2 separate regions of the Homo sapiens genome follow, and region 2 is linked to region 1. The links come from fine-mapping of genetic effects on gene expression. A gene starts in region 1. The other region holds a variant in brackets. All regions are shown on one strand. Distances are from middle to middle.

Region 1 (5,000 bases):
CAACGTACTTAATGCCTAATGCCACTGAACTGTACACATAATAATGGTTAAAATACTGAATTGTATGTAATATATTTTACCATAATTAGGAAAGAAAAAAAACTGCGTTCACGTGTTTCAAAGGTTTTCCACAACTGTATAATACATATAGTTGGTTATACCTTTGTAACAGTGACCATATCGCTCTTTCTGCAACATCTATTAACCCAGACACCCCAGGGCCTAAGTAAGCATCCATTCTTCAGGAATTAGTAAACAGCACTTACACACGGACATTTCTAGCTAAAAGTAACACAGACAAAAAAACCTCAAAAATATCACGTAAGGGCAGGTGTTAGGCAAAGAGCCTCTGCAAACATCCCTTGCTCCTCTGCATTGCTCTGGTGTGAGGAGCTAGGACATGGAGAAACCTCTACCTCCTATCTCAGGATTAGCGAACCCTGCTTGAGTGCTACAAGGGTAAGTAAATGCTGGCCTGAAGAAGCTGCTGAGCTTCCGGATCCCACTGACTGTCGTTCGGGCACTTCCTAGAGGGTCAAGCACCATGGCGAAAGGCTGAGGAGGCAACTCGTATCTTTCATTCTCCTGCCTCATCAAGAATGAACCTTGAAGGCACCCATAGGTCGCGCAGTCTTTCAGAAGCTGCAGGAGGGCTGTGACTGTATGGGGTTGCAGACTGAAAATCTTATTAACGTGAAAGAGGAATTTGAAATTAAAAAAAAAAAACCCGGCCGGGCGCGGTGGCTCACGCTTGTAATCCCAGCACTTTGGGAGGCCGAGGCGGGTGGATCACGAGGTCAGGAGATCGAGACCACGGTGAAACCCCGTCTCTACTAAAAATAAAAAAAAAAAATTAGCCGGGCGTGGTGGCGGGCGCCTGTAGTCCCAGCTACTCGGAGAGGCTGAGGCAGGAGAATGGCGTGAACCCGGGAGGCGGAGCTTGCAGTGAGCCGAGGCTGCGCCACTGTACTCCAGCCTGGGTGACAGAGCGAGACTCCGTCTCAAAAAAAAAAAAAAAAAAAAACCCCACAATATCAGGCTACAGTTATCATAGCAATTCTGCTTTTAATGCACTCAGGACAAACTTCTAGCTCTGCATATATGTCATTTCAATGACACATCCTGTCTCCTACCCGACTAGAATGTGAGCAGCCCTGTGATCTCTATGTGCTCATAAACAGTGCCTAATGCGAATCCTGGCTCTTGGAAGGCGCTCAGCTAGTAAGTGAGGAGCTCAGCTCTGAAGCTGTAACCAAGACCGCGCGGGCAGGAGGAAAGGACACTTCAGCGCTCTGCGGTTGCAAACACACCCCTGCGGGTGCTGCCACTTAGCAAAGTCTTAGGTTCCCGCTTACTCGCACACGCATCCTGACTTCCCCCAACCCTGGAACTACCTACCAGGAGCGGAGACCAGCAGACCGACAGCACGCACATGATCCCCATAAGCTGAATGGCCGTCTCGGTCGTGATGCGGCCCCACTGGGCACTGGACTGAGATGCCGTGGCCTTGGCCCGGCAGCGGGACACCAGGGCCTTAATGGTGGCCAGGTTGCAGGAAAAGGTGACTGTCAGCGCCAAGAGCCCCAGGAAGGCAAAGGCAGAGGCGAAGAAAAGGTTGCCCCAGTTATGCGAAGAGCTAGTCCCGTTGCCCCCTCGCCCGGTGCTGATGAAGCACCACGTCCCGGGCCACTGGACGGTGTACTGGCCCACGCCCAGCACCGGCAGCAGGGCGAAGGCGAGCACGGCCAGCCACACGCCGAGCAGCACAGCGCGGGTGGCACGCGTCTTCATGTGGCTCGCATACCAGTGCGGCGCCCTGATGGCCAGCGCCCGCTCGACGGCCATGGCGCTGGCGATGAACAACGAGGAGAGCCCGAAAACAGTCATGGTCAGCCCGAAAAAGGTGCAGAGCCGCCCCGACGGGTCGATGTGCTCCCAACGCTGCTTGGACAGGTACACGACGATGACGACCGGGGTGGTGAGAAGCTGCCCGACCAGGTCGGTGAGCGCCAGCCAGCCGATGCACAGCAGGAAGGACTTCTTGCGCTTGCTCTCCCGGCGCCGGTAGCTGCGCGACACGAGCAGCATGGCCAGTGCGTTGCCCACGAAACCAGTGAGCAGCATGGTGATCGGGAAGGCCACGGACACCGATCCGCAATCCTCGCCAGACCCTGGAGGGCGCGTGAGGTTGCCCCGCGCCTCGGCGGAACGCTCGGGCGCCCACATGCCTGTGTAGGAGTGGTTGAGGCGGGTGCAGAAGGGGGCATCCCCTCCGTAGCCCCGGGTCTCCTTCATGTTGGCTTCGAGGTGAGGAGGGGATGGCGTCCAGAGAGCCGCAGCGGGAGGGGGCAGACGCGGCGCGGGCGGCGGCGGAGGTCGGCGTTTACCGCGGCTGGGGCTGGGCTGCCCCCCATGGTGCGGGGCGCAGCCGCCGCCCTACTCCGCTGCTGGGACCGCGGCCGCGGCGGCGCCAGGGCTCACTGGCCCGGGAGGGAGCCACGCCTTCCTCTCTGGGAAACCTCTGGTGGCGAGGCGCGCGGAGGTGCCGAGTCCCCTTTATAAGGCCGAGGGGGCGGGGCGCCCGTGGGTGTGGACAGAACCGAGGTGGGAGGAGGGTGCAAAGCAACTGAGCGCCTCTCTTGGCTGTTGCCTATCCTGATCGCCTGGGTTGGGAAGCCCCAGACGGTCTCCTCTGAAACGCCCTGCTCCTGGCCGGACCGGGAGCCCACTGGGGTCTCCTCCAGTTCTCCGCTAAAGTGTCGGTGGACGGCAAGCAGCTAATAAGTAGCACTGGACTTGCGGACCCCAGGCAAACTGCCGAGGCGCACCTGAGCGCTCGTCCTCCTGCTTCTTCAACCACAAACGCTCCTACAGGGACGGGATCCTTCTCCTGAAGTCCTTTAGTAACTCTGGTAAAGTGAAAATCGCCTGTCCTTAAGCAATCCACACAAGCCTTTGCATAGCTGATCGTTAACTTTTTTCCTTTCTGCTTTGTGACTCTAGAGTGATTATAAAAAGGCCAAGGTGTCCTGTCCCCTGGGGTGCCGCTGAAAACTATAAAATTACTAGACAGTGCCTGTAGACTTAAGGGAATAGACACAGGGAAACAAATACATCGGATGGTTGAATTCCAAGACCAAGAAATCCCAACTACTACCCCTCGCCTAATCCTGCCCGCTCCCCTCCCCACCACCCAACAAAAAGGTCAGCTATGGCAAAAGTGGCTACAGGAAGGTGGCATCAATTTGCATATCTGAGGTAGTGAAATCAACTGCTCCCAGCCTATGGGAGTGAGAGGGGAGCAGAAGAGAAAGGTATTCCTTACAAAGCCTCCAACCATCCTTCTTATCTTCATACAATAAGAACTAGAAAAGGTATTCAGATGTTATGAAGGCCTTAATCTATATGGAAACTTTGCCTTTGAAATAATAAACATTGAATGAAAATAGGCATACTTGCTTGCCTCGTAACATCTTTCAGTAAGCCAATATTTTATGTACTTCTCACAAGCATTTTCTCATTTTATCACAGAAATCCTCCAAGGTACTATTGCTATTATTATTTCCCTTAAAGGTGGGGTAACTGAGGCCCCATGAAGTTAAAGAATGTTCCTGAAGTCTCTCAGCAATTCTCAAGTCCCATCTTATTTGAAGCATGTATTCCTGACATGGGTCCCATAACTGCTCTCAGCAGATGAATATTAACGGTGAGATCATCTTCCCCTAATCTTGGGAAAGTCTTGTGTTTTTTGCTTTTTGCCTTTTTACACTGTCTAAGAGATGAAAAGATTTTTAAAAATAATTGCAAAGTTCATTTTTCCTCATATTTAAGAAATTAGACTTAATCATATAGCACTCTAAAGACCATTATTTTGATTGACACAGATCAACTTTCAGAACAAGCCCAATCAGTTTTGCCTTTCCTAGCTTAGCTGATGTTCTGTATGGGTGTTCTTAACTTTTAAATTACTGTTAAGAGGTAAGAATGGGATATGTCCCTCTGCATACTTTATGTGCTGTTGTCTTGATTCTGTATGAGAGTTTGAAAAAATATCACTATAACATTATATGTTTTTTAAAGAAGGAAAAGCAAGAATGCAACTTAAACTCCATTTTAATAAGATGCATTAATCACAACATGAATTTCATTTTGTGTTTTGCTGTCATTTAAAAATGTTTTGCACTTTTGCGTTTTACTGACTAAAATGTCACGTTTACAATGGGAACAACAGCTAGGAAGGGTGAAATGGTTTGATTCTAAAATCTTCCGTAAACTTTTGTCTTATTATTTTGAATTAATCTCAAACCTGTATTTGGGATAGTATTTTTCTAGCCTAATATCATTTGAAAATAAAATAATATTTGAGGTTATTCTTAGACAAAGCTTTATCCAAAGCATTTGGATGAAAGTGGCTATCAAGTTTATACCATCTATAGTTAGTAAAATTCTAGTGTAATTCAATATTTAAAATTTAAGACCATATCACCATTCACACAGCAAAGGAAGCAAGGCTTATCTTTTTCCAGTTACATCAAAAACTATTCTCATTTTTATTCACAAATATTTGACTTCTTTGAAACTTTTACTTCTCCCACTGAAGTGCTTGCTGTAGCCAATTGGACTTGATAAGCATGGTAAGCGTCGGGGCATGTATTAGTAAAGAATTGTTAGCCTCTCACTAACCTCTATGCCAATGAACAAAATGTGTTGCATTTCAGATAATTTGGGTATTTCTCTTCTTTCAGCACTTTGCTTCATCCTATATTGTCTGCCTTTAGCTATTCACCTTGTAAACAAGTGACTGTGAGGTTTTGTGGAGTAACAGTGTGAAGCTGGCAGTTGGATTCTGGTTGGTACTTTCTGGTCAGTTACTACGGATATAGTGTGAATTGTGTTGGTCTGAAACAACACCACCCTCTAGTGACCAAAAGGCTAATAACATGCTTTATGCTGTTTTAAAGAGAATTTCCATAGGGCCAATGGATGCTTTGCTTAGGGAA
Region 2 (5,536 bases), 510 kb before region 1:
AACATTATTTGTGTTGATTTTTTCCTCAAGTAATTTCTTTTCAGTTTTAGGCAATAAATAGAAAAATAATAATATAGCAGGTTTTCAGAAAGTTTTTGCTTATTTTCCATTGTTGATGTCAGATTCTAAAGTTTTGGAAACACTTATGGATGTAAGTATAAATTTTTTTGAAAACAAAAAGTCACTTAAAATCATTGTAGAAGGTACTTTAAGAAGAGTACAATATGTTGGTTAAGAGCATAATTTCTAGAATTTTGCTGCCCATTTCGATTCTATCTCTACCTCTTACTGGTCATAAAACTGGATCAAGTTACTTAGGCTCTTAGTGCCTCAGATTCCTTAAATATACAGTGGAGACATTAATAGATTCTTCCTTTACAGAGTTGTTGTGAAGATTAAATAAAATCATATGTGTAAAGCCGATAAAATATCTAGCCCTACTCAATGCTCAATCAATGTTAATTATTATTATCTAAAACTATCAATCCTACAGAATTCAGCCAAGGAGGAAAATGAAAACAAAAACAAAAATGGTGGAAAGATGATCATTTTGTTACACATGAATATCCAATAAATGTGTATAGATTATCACTATTAAAAGATAACTCGGTTGGGCAAATATTACAAAATTCAGCTATATGATATATCCAAGAGCCAAATATGAAATTAAACCCCAAAGAAAGATAACAAATAAAAGAATAACTAAAATATATATCAAGAAAATTATAACCAAATGAGAACTGGCAAAGTAAAACAAGACAAAGTAGAAAATATGGCAAAAGACATTAGTAGACATAAAGGCCACTACATAATAATAATAATTTTTGATATAAAAATTATAAATTTCTATGTACCCAATATTGTCTCAACATAAATAAAACCGATTGGGCAGTGGCTCATGCCTGTAATCTCAGCATTTTGGGAGGCCGAGGTAGGTGAATCACTTGAGGTCAGGAGTTCGAGACCAGCCTGGCCAACATGGTGAAATCTCATCTTTACTAAAAATACAAAAATTTGCTCGGCGTGATGGCGGGTGCCTTTAATTCCAGCTACTCGGGAGGCTGAGGCAGGAGAATCGCTTGAACCCAGTAGGCAGAGGTTGTAGTGAGCCGAGCTCATGCCACTGCACTCCAGCCTGGACAACAGAGCAAGACTAAGTCTCAAAAAAAAATTTATATATTTATATAAATTTAAATGTAAGTATATATTGATATAAATATATGTATTTATATAATATATATTTATTAAATATAAATATAAGTATATGTTTATCTATAAAACCAAACCATTGTGATTATGAATTTGTCAAATTTATCTTATAATTATCTTATTCCACATAATTATAAGAAAATTTGACAAATTCATAATCATAATAGGATATTTTTAATAAACCTTTATCAGAAGTTAGTAGACCAAGTAATAGTGTAATGATCTTGAACAAAACTAATGGCTTGTCCTGGACCTCAAAATAGAAAATATGCATTCTTTTTTAAGGATACATGAAAAAGTTATAAACATTGTCCAGGTGTTAGGTCTCAAAAGAAGTCCCTATGAAGGTCAGAGTGTGCTCTCTGAACACAGTACATTAAATTCGAAATCAAGAATAGAAAGCCATTTAGAAAGACTCTCTGTATTGTAAACTAAAAAAGTACTGCTACATGAGAGTTAAAGAATAAATGACAATGGAAATAGCAACCTATTTAGAGTTGAATGATGATGAAAGTTTTACTCATCAAAGTTGCCAAAAAAAGTTATGTAGAGGTTCATTTGCAGCTTAATTTGAAAATAATTGGGTTAAGCATTAACATAAAAAACTACAGAAAATTGACAAGAGGAAAGAAAAAAGATAAGATAAATGAATGAACTAGGAACCAGAGAGAATCAACAAAAGCAAAAGCTAGTTCTTTACTAAGATTTAGACTGTATTTATAAAATTTTGTATACATAAAATATTGTCTTATGAATTCTCTGTCATAGGTGGAAAGAATGTAGAGAGGCGCATTCGAAGAGATGGGTTCCAGAATTTTTCCACATATGTTTAGTCTCTGTTATCATGTTGCCTAATCATATAGATGTATTCCTTTCTTTACTTTCCACTATTAGCTTGCATTCTGAGAAATAAGAAAATATTGTCACAATTGAGATTCACATGGCTTATGTAGTAAATAAATTTCCTACTGCATTTTCTTGAGCATGCTTGTCCTACTACAAAGTCAAAACAAAATAATGAAGGCTAAATTAAATATAAATGTACATATGTATATTTAATTCAAAATAATACATTGCTCATAGAGAAATAAAGTAGAAAGTATACACCAGAAACCAAATTCCTACTTAGTGTGAGTTGAACCACATATGGTATGTTTCAGACATACATACAAGAATTGGTGGAATGTACCTAATAAATAACATTTTTCTTAAATTTCAGGGTTCAGGTTTTGTTTAGTTGTACCTTATTGTTTTGAAGCGACATTGGCTTTTTTTTTTTTAAATAGCCAAGCCTTTGACATTATGAAGAATACTGCCACCTATTTTATAATGGCAAGGTTACTAATGGGAACTGTCTTTCTGTGGATTTATTTCATCTAGGTGCTGATCTGCTGATGAATTCTAGGGGAAAGATTGTATTTTATTGAGTTAGTTACATTTATATAACTGGAATTGCTGTCATTTTCTCCTCTATAGAACCTTAATTCCCTTGTTCAAATGGCTCAAAATAGGTTGCCATTGAAGGCTGTAAAATAGGTGACAGAATGAGTTTTGCAGTCATAGAATATTCTGGTACCCTTATGTAATGCAATCACTTTGGACATTAAACTAAATGGGCTCATTATCTTTTCTTTTCAATCTGCTTCACAGTTAAGGAAAATGAGTATTAATCTAGAAGAATGTTTTATTCTTTCTCAACTCAAAACTTGTACTCTGCCTCTTTTATTAGAATTAGCTCTGCTGTCATGACCTGAAGATTTCCAGTCTCATGAATTCATTACGTTGCCACTTTATTTTCAAGAACAAGCTATGTACCCTTTAGATTATATTTGAATAAAATTGGCTTTGCTAATTATTACCAAAAGAAAATGGAAAGGATTAGAAATTAAGTTTGGTTTAGTCAGTATTTGTTGAATATGTAATATGTGCTCATTGTTGTGAGGGAAAAAGAACCGTAAGAAATGCTTTTGCATATTTTACTCAAAACTGACAAGTAATTAATTGTTCAAATCGATGATGCTAACTCTAAGTGCTATTTTGGACATTTTGACTTTTCTCTGGTCTACCAGGAGAATTAACATGGAAAGATTGGACTTTGGTTAATTCACACAAGTGCTTGGTGAGCACTCATCAATGATGGGATATAGTTGTGAACAGCACAGAGATAGTCCCTGCCTATATGATGCTGCAAGAA[A/C]CATAGAAAAGAGTTTTAGAGGGAATAGTGTCTTCTACTGGAAGCAATTTCTGAGATGTCAAAAAAGTGACAACGACTAATGTACTCTTCTATGCTCGGGAGACTCTGAAGGGGAGACCTGTGATTATAGGCATGTTCTGCCTTGTCTGTGTTTGCTCAGTGAGAGAAACATGAGTGATTGATTTCCAGGCCTGAAGGGGCATTTGACTCAACATTTGTCAAATGCTCCCATTCAGGTTCTCATCCTACACTGGAATAAAACACAATTTGTTTATTAAATCAATGCAAAAATGAGATTGTGGTTAAAACACAGTAAACCTATGCCATTCTTTGGGGCACATATTTTTCTTCTAAAGTGAAAAAAATTCTGGTGTAACTAGGGAATACTTACATTAAATCAATACCCTGCTGTTAAAACTAAGTTCTACAGAATGAATATACTACAAATATTTCACCAAGAAAAAATAATTTGAGCTGAGCTCATACATTATTATAACACTATATTATTTTTAGGTGTGAGTAAAATAAAACTGGTGGCATTTCCTTGCACATGGTAGCTTTCCTGTATATTGTATATAAAAATATATATACAAAAGGTACACGTGACTTCTTAGAAGTCTTTCTATATATAAGGTGTTGAAGATCTTATTTTGTACCAGCGACTTTGCTCAGTGCTTTACATGTATGGTGCTGTTTAATCTGTGCATTTATTTAAACATTACAGCAACTCATGAAATAGGGACTATCATCAGTGAGATTTTGCAGATGAAAAAATTGATGCTTAAAGAAATAAAACAACATATTCAATTTCACAGAACTATTCAGTGGCTGGTATTGGCTTTTAGATCAGATCTGCCTAATTACAAAACCTATTTTCTTCTTTTACTTCTTTTTAGAAATAGGGCCTCGTTCTGTTGCCTAGGAGCATAGTGTTGAGATATCGGCTCATTGCAGCCCTGAGTTCCTGGGCTCAAGTGATCCTCCCACCTAAGCTTCCCCAGTAACTGGGACTACAGGCACCCTCCACATGCCTGGCTATACGTATATTTCAATTTTTTTGTAGAGACAGGGATCTAGCTGTGTTGTTCACACTGGTCTCAGACTCTTGGCCTCAAGCAACCCTCCCACTTTGGCCTCCCAAATTGTTGGGATTACAGGCATGAGCCTTTGTGCCTGGCCTCAAAGCCTATCTTCTTAGCCATCCTGCTATAAGGTTTAAAATTATATTAGTCTAACTATAGTTCACCCTTCCTTCTGCTCCCACAATGTTTTTGCTCCTAATTAATTCATAGCCTTGGAGATTTTGCAGATCAAAAGTTAAGACTTGGCATTTTGACCTGCAAAACACTTATTGACCCTCATTAGTATTTATTGGTGCCAACTACTCTAGATGGCCCTATTTTTACTGATGTGTATTGATAGCTACCATTACTTGAAGAGTATTTAAAATGAGTCTGAAGTCTATACAAAGAATCCTTGCACCATATAATTAAAACACCTAATACACCTTTATATGACATCAGGGCATATCATATATAATCTCTATTTTTCTTCTCCCCCAAATCTGGTTTACCAGTTTTATTTTCTCCCCGCCCCATGTCCACACATCTTATGCTCTTGTAGTGCTTTCAATGACTTGATATTATGGAAACTTTCTGGGTTTTTTCCCAGAGCAAAATTATCCATCTGATGGTCCATTATCCAAATCTATAATGAATTACAGACCTGGTATATTTACTTTGTATATTGTTTGTAAGTTTTTTTTTTTTTTGAGCCAACAGTTCAAACCCAGGAAATTTTATATAAAAATCTGGATCCTAATCATAATCTGGCAGCACCGGGTCTAAATTTTTGCATGCTATTATAATAATGGCCTAGCTCTACTTAGTAGGTGCCCCTTTAGATAGTGTGAGTCCTTTTTCGTTTGCTGTAGACATATCACTCGCAATTGACTTTCCAATTCTAGGTCAAATGCTAGTTATCATTCATATTGTGCGTACATTGTCAGTTTCTCATTGTAGAGAAGTCTTTCTCTATATTATGTTTCAAGAGAAGGAAAATGGAATATAGACCCAAAGGTGTATGTCCTTCAAAAAAAATGGAAGAAAGCATATTTGTCTTTACATATACAGA

What was found. PIP is the estimated chance that this variant, and not a neighbour inherited with it, causes the effect. A credible set is the group of variants that fine-mapping cannot tell apart.
Region 2: its variant is the best candidate, but not a certain one, in a credible set for the expression of PTGER3 in prefrontal cortex (GTEx, PIP 0.51).

Annotation. Positions count from the first base shown.
Region 1 is chr1:71,045,283-71,050,282 of GRCh38, forward strand. PTGER3 (prostaglandin E receptor 3) reads right to left here and starts at 2,534. Exons shown (of 4, transcript NM_198719.2): 1 at 1,399-2,534. The coding sequence starts at 2,295. ZRANB2-AS1 (ZRANB2 antisense RNA 1) reads left to right here and starts at 1,224. Exons shown (of 3, transcript NR_038420.1): 1 at 1,224-2,307; 2 at 3,532-3,706. RefSeq lists an enhancer at 1,948-2,531.
Region 2 is chr1:70,539,507-70,545,042 of GRCh38, forward strand. No RefSeq gene overlaps it. Among named protein-coding and RNA genes, the nearest start is that of CTH, 130 kb to the left of the region's middle. The variant A/C (reference allele first, on the strand shown) is at 3,404.